Homo sapiens: one gene and its partners. The protein of the gene in region 1 purifies or fractionates together with the protein of each later gene. This does not show direct contact. Each region holds a gene or a part of one and is shown on either strand. Other genes may lie near its edges.

What was found. The genes of interacting proteins can lie anywhere in the genome.
Region 2: the proteins of EMID1 (region 1) and CRTAP purify together in Homo sapiens (affinity purification with mass spectrometry; 2 studies listed by BioGRID and IntAct, with this or other methods). This does not show direct contact.
Region 3: the proteins of EMID1 (region 1) and PPP6R2 purify together in Homo sapiens (affinity purification with mass spectrometry; one large-scale study listed by BioGRID and IntAct). This does not show direct contact.
Region 4: the proteins of EMID1 (region 1) and CALU purify together in Homo sapiens (affinity purification with mass spectrometry; one large-scale study listed by BioGRID and IntAct). This does not show direct contact.

Annotation. Positions count from the first base shown.
Region 1 is NC_000022.11:29,229,896-29,233,395, reverse strand, and holds part of EMID1 (EMI domain-containing protein 1 isoform 1 precursor), read right to left. Parts: intron 2,377-3,500; coding exon 2,256-2,376; intron 2,115-2,255; exon of another isoform or gene 2,080-2,114; coding exon of another isoform or gene 2,031-2,079; intron 1,939-2,030; coding exon of another isoform or gene 1,888-1,938; intron 1,804-1,887; coding exon 1,714-1,803; intron 1,141-1,713; coding exon 994-1,140; intron 830-993; exon of another isoform or gene 633-829; intron 18-632; coding exon 1-17.
Region 2 is NC_000003.12:33,127,514-33,131,013, reverse strand, and holds part of CRTAP (cartilage-associated protein isoform 1 precursor), read right to left. Parts: intron 1,076-3,500; coding exon 947-1,075; intron 1-946. UniProt on the Homo sapiens protein: Necessary for efficient 3-hydroxylation of fibrillar collagen prolyl residues.
Region 3 is NC_000022.11:50,430,327-50,433,826, reverse strand, and holds part of PPP6R2 (serine/threonine-protein phosphatase 6 regulatory subunit 2), read right to left. Parts: intron 2,655-3,500; coding exon 2,445-2,654; intron 1,563-2,444; coding exon 1,498-1,562; intron 1-1,497. UniProt on the Homo sapiens protein: Regulatory subunit of protein phosphatase 6 (PP6). May function as a scaffolding PP6 subunit. Involved in the PP6-mediated dephosphorylation of NFKBIE opposing its degradation in response to TNF-alpha.
Region 4 is NC_000007.14:128,766,859-128,770,358, reverse strand, and holds part of CALU (calumenin isoform a precursor), read right to left. Parts: intron 2,904-3,500; coding exon 2,704-2,903; intron 1,297-2,703; coding exon 1,192-1,296; 3' UTR 1-1,191. UniProt on the Homo sapiens protein: Involved in regulation of vitamin K-dependent carboxylation of multiple N-terminal glutamate residues. Seems to inhibit gamma-carboxylase GGCX. Binds 7 calcium ions with a low affinity.

The sequences.
Region 1 (3,500 bases):
GGACAGCAATGGGTCTCCTGGGTGAGCAAAGATGATGAGTGAGTAGAGCTGGGTAGAGTGGGGTGGTTAGTCTTCACCTGCCACCTCTGCCAAGACAGCTTGGACTGCCCTATGGGGCAGCCTGCAGCATGGCTGGTACCACCTGGGCACCTGCTCCAGGGTGAGGAGTGTGGAGAGTGTTGGTCCCGCAAGACCAGGAGGCAGGGAGATGTGGGTTCTAACCCCACTGCAATCCAGCTGGTGACATCCAGCAACACTTTCTACTTTTCAGAGCCTGTACTGTCACCTGTCAAATGGGAATGACAATAAAAGATACCATTTATCCACCACCTACTGTGTGCCAGGCTTCTGTACATGGATGTTACGCAGCTCTGGGAGGCTGGCACTGTCATTGTCCCCATCGTATGGATAGTGAGATGGAATGAATGCTGGGATGGCAGAATGAATGAATGGTGTGCTGGGTTGTGCACCAAAAACACAGTGGAGAAGAGGCTGAAACCTGGCGCTCCACACTCTGACCCCTGGCAGCCCATGGGCAGGTCAGGCTGGGCTGCCAAAGGGAAGAAGCCAAGGACGCACGTCAGGGCCTGGAGGAGGGGCCGGGCCTGTGGCCTTGGGAGTTCAGGACTCACTTCCTGCCGCCGGGTCTTTTGCGTCCCAGTGTTCCGAGAACTGGATTCCAGCCAGTTCCAAGGCTTGGGAGGGCCTGATGCCCGGTGGCTCTAAGCACAGGTTCTGGAGGCAGCCTGGGTTTGAAGCCGTTCCCCTACGCCCAGGCTGTGGGACCCTGGCAAGCCACCTTCCCTCTCTGGTCCTCAGTGTTCCTCACCTGTAACCACAGGAGGACAACGGCGCCTGCTGGAGGACTGGGTCACATGTGGCCTATCGTGAGCAGGGCTGGCACACAGAAGGCACGTGGCAGATGGTAGCGGGCACTGTGCTGATGGCTACTCCACCCCCACCTCCACCTGCTGGGATCCCAGGGGGACTCACCATGCTGGGAGATCCGGGCATGGGGTGGCCCAACAGGGGCTGGGGGCCCAGGGGGGCCAGGAGGCCCTGGTGGCCCAGGAGGTCCCCTCTCTCCAGGGGTGCCCACAGCTCCAGCCCGGCCAGGGCTCCCTGGGGGGCCCTGTGGACCTGCAATGGAATCACACGGATTTGTGGGTATACAGGAGGCAAGGAGGCCCAGGGTGGCCTTGAGCGACAGGACAAGGCAGCCTGGAGCAGTGGGCATGAGAGAGGGCCCCGGAGTCCACAGGCCTAGGCTGCCTGGTAGTCTAACAGGGGGATGAGCACAGCACCTAGTTCTCCACCTCGTCCAGGCTGAGTCTTCCTTCCTTGGGGCTCCCAAACCCCCAAAACCCCTCATAGAAACCCTGGTCACATGGGGCAAGCATTGCTGCTTCTCCTCTGCCCAGCCCTGCTCCCAGCAGCATGGAAGCTCCAGAAGGGCAGGGACATGTCTGACCCCACCCAGTGCCCAGCTCAGAGCCTGATAAGTGTAGGTGCCCAGGGAATGTGGGTCAGTGAACATAAGAGAGGACTTCATGGAGCCCAGGCGTGGGCAGGGCACTCCGTGGTGGGGTGCTGAGTGAAGAGGCAAGTAGATGAAAGGGCCCAGGTCATCCTGGCCATGTCAGGAGCAGGGAAGGGCCCACCTGGTGGAGGGGATGGCCAGAGGAGCTGTGGGGCAGCATTGCGGGCACTCACCTGGTGGGCCTCTCATCCCCATTGGGCCCCGACTGCCGGCATCTCCCTTGGGGCCGGTGGGCCCGGGAAGCCCCCAAGCACCGACTTGGTCTGGGGGGTAAAGCATATCAGACTGGCAGCTCCACATCTGCTCTTGACCCCCACCCTGGCCCCAGCCCCCCAACCAGCATCTACCATTTCGGGGAAGCAGCGGGACCCTCACACTCTCTATGGCTCCTGGCAGCCCTGGGGTGGGGGGGGTAGGCAGAGGTCAGTGTCCCTGCTGGGCCTGGAGGAGGGAGGCTCATCCAGAATCCCCACTCCCAGCTCCCCCCGACCTCCAGGCAGGGTCTGCTGGGGCTGCTTGGTCTCCAGGGACTGCAGCATTCAGGAGTCCCAGGAGACGGTCCTCTTAGGCGGGTCTAAGAAACGGGAAATGGGAAGACTGAGGCCCACTAGAGGGTTAAGTTGGGAGTCAGCGACAGGGTGGGGACCAGAATCCCACTTCCCCGATTCCCAACCCACTGCTCATTCCCACAGGGGAGTCTGAGTCTGACACTCACCCTGGAGGCCTCCATCTCCGGGGCTGCCCTGGGCAGGAGGGGGACCCCAGAGCGGGGCAGGGTCCTCAGGGGTAGCTGGTGTTGGAGGTACTGGCTGCTCTATGACAGTCAGCATGGTCATCTGAAGAGGAAGACAGGGACGGGGTGGGTACCAGGGTCTCACTAGGACCCCTCCCTATTTTTTTTGAGATGGAGTTTTGCTCTGTTGCCCAGGCTAGAATGCAGTAGTACTATGACGGCTCATGCAGCCTCAACCACCCGGGCTTAAGCGATCCTTCTGCCTCAGCCTTCCAAGTAGCTGGGACCACAGGGATGCACCACCACACATGGCAAATTTAAAAAAAAATTATTTGTAGAGACGAGGTCTCGCTATGTTGCCCAGGCTGGTCTTGAACTCCTGGGCTCAAGCAATCATCTTGCCTCAGCCTCCCAAAGTGTTGGGATTACAGGCATGAGCCAGGGTCTCACCACGGACAGGCCAGCCAAGGGGCCTGGTGTGGGAGGCAGGAGGCACATGGCCAGCAGGGCCCAGCTTGGAGTGGAGCCCCAGGCTCGCAGGGGCACCGAACTTCATCAGAAGTGACAGTGTTTTTCAAAGCACACAATTCATAACACGCATTATGGAAAAGTCACTGACACCATCATTGCCATCAAAGTTGAGCTTTGTGACTGTCGCGGTGCTTGCTGGGCCATGTGCTTTTTCTCTATGGTTATCCAAATAAGAAGCTTGTCTTGATTTCTTAAAGCACCACAGGGTATGGCTGGAAGAGTTTCACTTAGTTTGTTTTTTTGTTTTTTTTTTTTCCAAGATGGAGAGCCTTGCTCTGTTGCCCAGGCTGGAGTGTAGTGGCACGATCTCGGCTCACTGCAACCTCCGCCTCCCGGGTTCAAGTGATTCTCCTGCCTCAGCCTCCAGAGTAACTGGGATTACAGTCATGCGCCACCACACCTAGCTAATTTTTGTATTTTTAGTAGAGATGGGGTTTGACCACATTGGCCAGGCTGGTCTCAAACTCCTGACCTGAAGTGATCTGCTTATCTCAGCCTCCCAAAGTGTTGGGATTACAGGCGTGAGCCACCACTCCCGGCCTTTCACTAAATTTGGAAGGAAGTTTGGAAGAGTCTGACATGAAATAGAAACCTGGAGGTGTACACAAAGTCCACTTTTGGGCCCATGGTGAGGAAGACTCTGGGAAGCTGGAAGTGTCCCCTCAGCTGCTGAGGACCAACGAAAGGCCAGATGAC
Region 2 (3,500 bases), on another chromosome or scaffold:
CAAGTGGCACTTGGCAAAGTCAGGTACAGGGAGAGGAGGAAAAGCCGAAACACGCAGGCTCTGAAGTCTAACCCTGAACTTCCTTCTCTCCCACGTTTGCTTCCCATTGTCCACTAGAACGTTCTGATTGAGAAACTCCCATTTCAGATCAAGGGAGGACCAACTAGAATGAAACTAACAGGACGGGCGCAGTGGCTCACACCTGTAATCCCAGCACTTTGGGAGGCTGAAGTGGGTGGATCACTTGAGGTCAGGAGTTCAAGACTAGCCTGGCCAAGATAGTGAAACCACATATCTACTAAAATTACAAAAAATTAGCTAGGCGTGGTGGCACACACCTGTAATCCCAGCTACTCAGGAGGCTGAGGAAGGGGAATCACTTGAACCTGGGAGGCGGAGGTTGCAGTAAGTCAAGATCACACCACTGCACTCCAGCCTGGGCAACAGAGCAAGACTCTGTCTCAAAAAAAAAAAAAAAAAAAAAAAAAGAAAAGAAAAGAAAGAAAGAAAAAAGAAAAGAAAATAAACTCTAACAGTCTGAAAAGTAAAGCTAGTGATAAGGAGGAAGGGAAATAATGATAACAAAAACAAACACACAGTTTGCTATGTGCCAGTGTGGGAATACCCCAGACATTTCACATCTATTAACTCATTTACTCCTCAGGACAATCCTATGAGGTTAGTACTACAATCTCTATTCACAATGAGGAAACTAAAGCACAGAGAAGCTAGTAAGTGATAAGGCTGAAATCGAACCCAGGCACTGTGGTTACAGGCTCTGCCCTGAATCACTAAGCCATGCTGCCTTTTTGTGCAAAGCATAGCACCAGGGTTGTCAGTGGACCTTGATGAACTCTCAACAACCGTAGCTAAGAGTTATTACCTCTATTTTACAGTCTTAGAAGGACTAAGTGCCTCACCCAAGATGTCACAGAAGATTACTTACACTTATAATAGGCAAACTGCAAGTAATGATACATGGTAGCCACAAATTTCTCAACCGGATAGCCTCCTATAACTGGGGTGAGGTTCTCTTCACACTGTATTTTGCATTCCAGAACTTCTACATAATGATCTGAAACAAAACATATAAATTTTCAGAGCAGTGGATCCATTACTTTCTTAATATGCTACTGCCTCCTGCCCAAATGAAAAAGTTAAAAGAAAAATATTTACAGGCCGGGCGCGGTGGCTCACGCCTGTAATCCCAGCACTTCGGGAGGCTGAGGCGGGCGAATCACAAGGTCAGGAGGATCGAGACCATCCTGGTTAACACAGTGAAACCCTGTCTCACTAAAAATACAAAAAATTAGCTGGGCGTCGTGGTGGGCGCCTGTGGTCCCAGCTACTCAGGAGGCTGAGGCAGAAGAATGGCGTGAACCCGGAAGGTGGAGCTTGCAGTGAGCCGAGATCGCGCCACTGCACTCCAGCCTGGGCAACAGAGCAAGACTCCGTCTCCAAAAAAAAAAAAAAAAAAAGAAAAAGAAAAATATTTTCAACACCTACAAGGAGCTGAAAATCTTTAATATACAAAGTTGTTTCAAATCAATATGAAAAAGATGAACATCCACTATATAAATGGCCAAATGATATTAATAGAAATTATTAAAATGTCTAAAAAACATTGAGAGACACTACACCTCTTTTGTAATTAGGAAATACAATTACCCCCAAAATAATTTAAACTACCAAATTGCAAAAGTTTTACAAATTCATACTGTAGTATTAAGAAGAGAACAGTGAAACTTACACTCTCATATTCTGTTGATGGAAGCAAAACAGGAACAAACTTTTTGGAGAACAATTTGGCAAAATTTATCAAAGGTTAAAATACACATATTTTCCAACCCAGCTGTCTACTTCTAGGAAATTTTCTTTAGACACAGGCATACATAAACACTGTTTATAACAACAAACAAACAAACTTGTAAGTACCTAAATGCCAATCAATAGGATGAGGATTAATAAATTACAGTATATAAAAATAACAGAATCTACACAGCCTTTGAAAGAGAGTAAGGTGAACCTAAATATAGTCAAAGACTACAATTCCCATGCAGCTAGGTTGGGGCCATATGACTAGTCGTGGCCAATGACATGTTGAGAGTAACAATTAAGGAATGCTACTTCCAGGCCTAATCCCTAAAATCTCCCACATGATCCTTGGCTCCCTCCCTTTTCTCCCTTTATGCAGCTAGAAGCAAAAGACTCCAGAAGGGTTGCACACATTTCATAAGACTGTGGAGGAACAGGCACTTTCAAACATTGCTGGTAGGAAGTACAAAATGATACCTTAAAACACTAAAATTAATTTACAGAAACATTTACTCTTTGAACTATTATTTCCACTTTGGTTGACTCTGAAAACACGCCTCCATACTTACTACCATCACCAACAAAAAAGCCTTACATACTTACTACCACCAACAACAAAAAATTAACATCAACAATAAGGGTGCAAACAAACATCATACATATCTTGACGTGATATCCTGAGGAGGACATTTATATAGCGGTCCAGCCAAAAATACACAACCTGAATGTAACTGTGAAGACACATAATAGAAACCCAAATTGAGGAATGTTGACAAAGTAATTAGCCTATATTCTTAAAAAATATCATTGGCATAAAAAGACAAAGAAGGCCAAAGGATTGTTCCAGATTAAAGAATTCTAAAGGAAGATGACAAATAAATAGGAAGCATGATTCTGAACTGGAACCTGTACCAGGAAAAAAAAAGGTGCTAGAAAGAACATTATTGTGACAATTAACAAAAAGAGAATATGAACTACAGATTGAATACAAGCATTGTATCTAGTATATTAAGTTTCCTGAATTTAATTACTATGGATATTTAGATAATATTATTGTTCTTAGGAAATAAACTGAAGTATAATGGGGTAAAGAGTAATAATGCATGTGCAACATACTTCCAAATAGTTCTGAAATAAAAATAATTATACAGAGCTGGGTGCGGTGGCTCAAGCCTATAATCCCAGCACTTTGGGAGGGCAAGGCGGGCGGATCACTTGGGGTCAGGAGTTTGAAACCAGCCTGGCCAACACAGCAAAACGCTGTCTCTACTAAAAATACAAAACATTAGCCAGGTGTGGTGGCGCCTGCCAGTAGTCCCAGCTACTCAGGAGGCTGAGGCAGGAGAATTGCTTCAACCCGGCAGACAGAGGTTGCAGTGAGCCAAGATCGCACCACTGCACTCCAGCCTGGGCGACAGAGTGAGACTCAGTCTCAAAAATAAAATATAATAGGCCGGGTGCGGTGGCTCACGCCTGTACTCCTAGCACTTTGGGAGGCCGAGGTGGGTGGATCACCTGAGGTCAGGAGTTCGAGACCAGCCTGGCCAACGTGGTGAAACCCCGTCTCTACTAAAAATATAAAAATTAGCCAGACGTGTTGGTGCATGCCTGTAATCCCAGCTACTCGGGAGGCTGAGGCAGGAGGATTGCCTGAACCTAAGGGGCAGAGGTTGCAGTGAGCCGAG
Region 3 (3,500 bases), about 21 Mb from region 1:
CCAGGGCAAATGCCCGGCCCCTGCCCAGCATCCATGCCCCCGGCCCTCCTCCAGGTTCACCTCCAGGGCAAATGCCTGGCCCCTGCCCAGCGTCCGCGCCCCCGGCCCTCCTCCAGGTTCACCTCCAGAGCAAATGCCCGGCCCCTGCCCAGCATCCATGCCCCCGGCCCTCCTCCAGGTTCACCTCCAGAGCAAATGCCCGGCCCCTGCCCAGCATCCATGCCCCCGGCCCTCCTCCAGGTTCACCTCCAGAGCAAATGCCCGGCCCCTGCCCAGCGTCCGCGCCCCCAGCCCTCCTCCAGGTTCACCTCCAGAGCAAATGCCCGGCCCCTGCCCAGCGTCCGCACCCCCAGCCCTCCTCCAGGTTCACCTCCAGGGCAAGTGCCCGGCCCCTGCCCAGCATCCATGCCCCCAGCCCTCCTCCAGGTTCACCTCCAGAGCAAATGCCCGGCCCCTGCCCAGCGTCCGCGCCCCCAGCCCTCCTCCAGGTTCACCTCCAGGGCAAGTGCCCGGCCCCTGCCCAGCATCCATGCCCCCGGCCCTCCTCCAGGTTCACCTCCAGAGCAAATGCCCGGCCCCTGCCCAGCGTCCGCGCCCCCTGCCCTCCTCCAGGTTCACCTCCAGAGCAAATGCCCGGCCCCTGCCCAGTGTCCGCGCCCCCTGCCCTCCTCCAGGACACTTCTGTTTGAGTAGCACCTGCCACGTGCAGCAGGCTCACCCCAACCTCACTACCAAAAGTGCCACTGAGACAGATGAGGAAACAGACACTGCTCTCACTCCATTTTACAGACAGGGAAATGGAGGCAGAAAGGCCGTGGCGTGGCCTAAGTCCCGCTGGTGGCAGCAGTGGCGCAGGAGGTGAGCCCATGCTGCCAGCTACCAAGCTCAGGCTCAGCACCCCAAGGGGAGGGTTGGGCGGGACCTCCATGCTGTACAGCCCAGCTCGGCCTCTGCTTCCCCACAGCTGCACTCAGACCCCTCCCAGCTCCCTGGAGTCCCTCCTCATATCGCCCAGAGCCAGACAGTTCCCAGCAGGACAGCAAACGGGTGGGGATGGCTCTGGGCCCACGACAATAAGCGGGACATGTGTCCTGACCAGAGGGAGCACCCATTAAGCAGAAGATGGAAAGACCAAAATAACGCGTCCCTGTGTGCGAGTGCTGACGGAGGGCCCGAGTTCCTGGGGAAGATCAGGAACGGACAGCGGACCCACAAGAGGGCAAAGCCAGGCTGGGCGGGGGCCAGAGCAGGTGCCTGGTGGGGACGGGACCGCTTCCTGTCGGCTCCCTGTGTCCCCTCCCCAAGTAGCATTTGCAGCTGTCCGCCCAGTAGAAGGGCCCCTTGCACAGCAGCCCCAGAACGTGGAGCCACGTCGCACACCCTACACTCCACCCGATCCTGCAGTCCTGCACGCAGCGTCACCAGGGCTTGGGTGAGGTGCGTCTCTGCATCCCTGACTGGCCAGGCTGGGTCCCTCCACGTCCGAGCGGCTCTTACTGCGTGTGGTCGTTGGCTTCCCAGGCCTCCAGGATCCTCTGCACCAGGCAGCACTTCTGGAACAGCTGGGGGGCGGGGCAGGGGGACAGCGTGAGTCAGGGTCTGAAGGCGGCACGCACCCCTCCACCCATCCCTGGACTGGGCAGGGCTGGCTGGCGGCCACGTCTGTGTGGACTTTGCAGGCCCTGACTGCTGCGCACGCACAGCCCCAGCCTCCGCGGTCCTCACCAAACACCAGAGGAGGGTGCGGTTCGGGGCTCATACTGCTGAGCGCCCTAAAGATGAAGCCCGAGAAAAGGACCCTCTCCCTTCTCCTCCAACTCCTGGAATTGCCCCCTGACCCCTGTCTTCCCCTGGGCCTTCTCCCCGTCTCTCCATTGCCCTCCACTTTGGCCACTCTCCTGCCCTCTTTCTCTGTGTCCGGAAGAACGACTAGGGCTGTCTGCCCTCAGCACTTTCTCTCACCTCCAGGCCCTGACACAGATCACTTCTTGTACCTGAGATGTTTTTCCTGGGCTCCACCTCACACTACGATATACCTGTGGCCTTGCTATCCGGGTGACAGTCCCTGGTTGGCCTGCATGTCCCTCAGCATCCCCTCCCCACCGTGTGGCTCCCATCACTGACACTGCTGGCTCCCTGGGCATTTATTCCCTGGGCCTCCAGCTGGAGGCCAGACTGAACTCATCTCATCCAGTGCTAACCCTTGCCAGGCCTGCACGTGGAAGGCACCAGTACCCCTGCTGAAGGCAGGTAGGAATGAGATCTGCAAGACCCACTCAAGCCCCACTGTCTACGAGCGTCTGACCAGACACCTGGGGACCCTTTTCAAAGCCCTGCCCCCGTGTCAGCTGCACAGTGAGGTCCGGCACACGTCAGCGCTGACATGGACACGGTCTGAGTGGGGCGCAGTTGGCGCTGATAAGATGGATGCTTCTTGGACTCACGTGGGTCACCATTGTGTTGTCAGGGAGGCTGGCGGCCGGCTGGGGAGTCTCCAGGCTCCGGTTCCCGTTCTCATGCGGAGGCTCCACCCTGCTCTCGGATCCGCTGGCTTCTGTCCTCTCCTCACGGGCAGCGTGGGAGAGAATAGCGGCTATGCATAGTTCCACTTGGAAGTGCAAAAAGTTATTCCAGGTGTACTTAAAGAACAAGTCCTGGGTAAACAGAGGACAGAAGACAGTTCTTAGATCGGTTTTCTCCTGCCGGCTACACCACAAAGCTGAGGGAAACCCTTCCTAAAGGTGGCGTCCTAACTCCTCACAAGTCCAGTCTCTGGGTAGCTAGGAAGGAGTTTTAAGCGTTTTCCTGAGGGTCATCTCTCTATTACGGAGCTTCTTCAAATAGCCACTGAGCACTTCTGCCTCCTGCCTGTGGGTGTCTGTTGGTCTCTGCTTCAATCTGAATCATCACCTTTCTACTTTCTGCGGGTTTATTCTTTTTTTTTTTTTTTTTTGAGACGGAGTCTTGCTTTGTCTCCCAGGCTAGAGTGCAGTGGCACGATCTCGGCTCACTGCAACCCCTGCCTCCTGGGTTCAAGTGATTCTCCTGCCTCAGCCTCCCTGGTAGCTGGGATTACAGGTGCCCACCACCATGCCCAGCTAATTTTTGTATTTTTAGTAGAGACGGGATTTTGCCATGTTGGTCAGGCTGGTCTTGAACTTCCAACCTCAGGTGATCTGCCCGCCTCCGCCTCCCAAAGTGCTGGGATGACAGGCATAAGTCACCAGGCCTGGCTTCTTTTGTCCTTCAGTTGGAAGCTCAACTCATTAATTGCAGCCTTTCTTTCCAGTCTGTCTTTAAAGGCTACATTTCCCTGTATACAATCAACTTTAACTACATTCTACACATTTTGCTAAGTAGTATTTTTATGATTCTTCAGTTCTAAGTATGTGAGAAGTTCCTTTATGATTCTGTCTTTCTCATGAATTATTGGAAGTGTGTTAGACTCTCAAGCACATGAGGATTCCACCCAGGATGGGCAGGCGTGTGCATATCGTCCA
Region 4 (3,500 bases), on another chromosome or scaffold:
GGAAATCAGCCCACAAGATAAGAACACTGCAACCAAACTCATAACTAATACTGCTAATTTAACTATTGTCCAAAAGAGAAAGGGAAGAAGAAAAAAATCCCCACTCTACTGGGAGGTTCTAGGCTTTCCTATAAGTTATCCAAATAGTCTTTTTTTAATCTCAGGGTTTCTTAAGAGAATTCCCATTCAGTGACCATTTCTTTCGTTAAAGGCACTTTCAATGACATGATTGGAAAGGAGTGAATTTTAATTGTAGTGAAACCAAGATTAATTCCTTGGCACACCTGGGAAGAAGAGGAACCGGATGGGGGCATTTACAGTGATTTCAAAAGGCAAATAATTAAGTCTTGAGCATTTCAACAGATGCACACCCAGAAAAAAAATGTATGCCCCGAAAACACTTGTATTTTTCCTTTAGTTTTCCAGCTGTTTCTATCTATAGCTCTGCAAAGAGATCACATTCACTACTTGATTGATTTTCAAGACACTGGCCCTAACTCTTCCCACCACAGCTGTGCTTGACAAAATTAGCCAACAGTCAGTCCTACAGGGGGAAAAAGAAGAAAATCAATTTGGGCCAAGCTTTCCTAGAGCAAAGGGATCTTTCCTTGCCCAGGTAATGGCAGGTTCAGTTGCTGGACCTATAGCAACTGAATGTAATATGTGGCCCCTACTACCTATGAAATGTTGGACTTTTTGACAGGCAAGACTAAGTGTTCTCTCTCTAAATATAAATTGTGGAGCATATATTTTTTTTCTTTCCTCTCTCCTGAACATTTCTTATTGATCTCAGGCTTACAAAATTAGTTAAGTGAGAATTATTAAAATCATAAAAGGGGTTGAGAAAGAGTAAAGAGCTAATGTTTGTCTACATGTGTGAGTTGAGGATCTTGATCCTTCATATCATACTCCCAACCAGAGAAAAATACAAAAATAAACACGCCATGTTAATACATAATACAAAGTGTAAATCTACAAACACAAGTGTACTAATTAGAGTTGTTCCTCAGAAGCACGGCTTCCCTCCAGTCCCTCAGAGAGGAGGAGGAATGGGGACGGGATGGTTTTCATTACGCCTTTTCATGTCTTAAAAAGTTTGTAGTAACAGTCTCAGTAGCGCAAACAATTTCATGTGAAACCAGAAGCTGTAAAAATAAATTACTTTTGAGGAAATGAGGGTTCCTCCGTAGCTCAGAACTCATCATGCCGTACTAAGGCCTCCCCAAAATCTGTGGCCTGGCTGCCAACAAATAAGTCATACTTGTCAACGATCTCCTCCTTGGTAAGCTTGCCATCCTGAAAGTAGAGATAGCAATGAATTGAAGAAGAACATATTTCCCATTAAAAATTCAGAAACACTGTTATAGAAGAATTGGGGTTAATCAGAAGTTAAGATTCTCATTTCTACTAAATTAAGTGTGAACTACTCAGCCCTCATTCCCCCTACATACATACGAAGAGGGAAGAAAACAGCAATTACACATTCCTTGTTTTTTTTTTTTTTTTTTTTTGAGACGGAGTTTCGCTCTTGTTGCCCAGGCTGGAGTGCAATGGCGCGATCTCAGCTCACCGCAACCTCCGCCTCCCGTGTTAAAGTGATTTAAGTGATTTTTCTGCCTCAGCCTCCCGAGTAGCTGGGATTACAGGCATGCGCCACCACGCCCAGGTAATTTTGTATTTTTAGTAGAGATGGGGTTTCTCCATGTTTGTCAGGCTGGTCTTGAACACCCAATCTCAGGTGATCCGCCTGCCTTGGCCTCCCAAAGTGCTGGGATTACAGGCGTGAGCCATCGTGCCAGGCCAATTAAACATTTCTTTTATCAAGAAAGTTAAAAGTGGAAGGGTGGAAAGAATATAACACAACAACTCAATGCTAGAGATAAAGGTTTGTTTCATGAGGAGAAAACTCTCCTTTTAGAGGAAAATATGGAACATCTCCTAGATAGGGATGACTACATGCATTTCCTTTTCTCATACATCTCAGGACACAACACCTGGCTACTAAAGTGACTTTGAGCAAGAACTTAAAGCAGATCAACACTTAAAAAGGCTCTAAAATAAAAAACTGAATTTGAAATTGAAGATTAGCTTAGACAAAAATATACTCAGAACACTGAAAATCTCCATCTTTAGACCGATTTTCAGCTTACTCCAAGCAGGGCAGGAGTAATCTCTGAAGCAGGTGACTGGGCTTAGGGACAACAATACTTTTAACAAAATACCTCAGATAATTAATTGATCAAGGACAATTTGAACAGGCTCCAGAGAAAAGCTGATTTATAGCCCATACAAAGGACCCAATTTAAAAAAGCCTATTTGATTTAAGAAGGAAACAACCAGCTTTGAGTAGACAGAATGGGCCTGTAATAGGTAAAGGAACAAATGAAGTAACAAAGAAAAAAAAAAATTCCTGGGGATCTAAAAATACCTGATGATGCATGCTGGGCACAGGCTACACACAAAGGCTCTTTTCTGAAGCCAAATTTCCTACAATGCTATCAGCACTGGGCAAAAGGATTTCTAAAATGAGATCAGATAGCTAGTGCTGCCCTGAAAGGTTTTAATCGCCAGATTCAGATACTTGGCTGACTTAGACTAATTAAGACCTTAAATGCTCTATGCACCTTAACAGAAACTGTTCAGGTGATCCCCTAGAAGCATACTTCAATCAAGGATAGAGCGTGTGGGCCTCGCCAGACTTACCTTGTTTTGGTCTGATTCATAGACCAGGTGCCTGGCTTCTGCCTCTGCATGATCATAGTCTGAGGGAAGGATCCAGTCTTTGGTCTCTTCCTTGTCCATCTTCCCATCACGGTTCTTATCCCGAAACTCAACAAACTGCTCTCGCTCTGTCTTTACCCATTCTGGCTCATCAGTATTCCCATCATGGCTGTACATGTCACCTGGGTACACAGACATACATACAAAAGAAGGGTTTGTCTTTTCCCCAAAACTGCCTCATGCTAATCTGGCCTAACCCTTTTTCCTCATCCATTTGTTTGGAACCCAACAGCAGCTACAAGGGTATTTTAGGCCAGACAGACCTTAGAAAGCAAGGTATTTTCCTGAGGCTTAATCACTTATCTTGCAACAAGAATATTTCCAGCTGCTGATTTTAAGTCACATGAGAGCAAAGAGTTCTTATACCTTAATAAATGCAGAAATAAGAGGAGAGAGCTACCATCAAGAAAGACTTAGACTCGTTCCCTACATTTCATTTCACCCTAAGGTAGCTAATTAAACGGGACCACTTGTTTTAGAAAGGTGTAGCCAATTACTACAAAGAGTCCATTATACCAGTGGCCTTCAGTTGGGACAAGCACGCCCCTGGGGAAACAGGAACACTGTCAAGGAGTACACTGAGAAAGGTCAGTCAAGAGAGAATCAAATTCCAGATACTCAGTTCCACATATAGATTTTTCCAAAAATTGATCTTCATAAGAATGTACCTCTGGCCATCAAGGCTTTTTTCCCATCTCCCCCCTTTCACAACTGCCCTT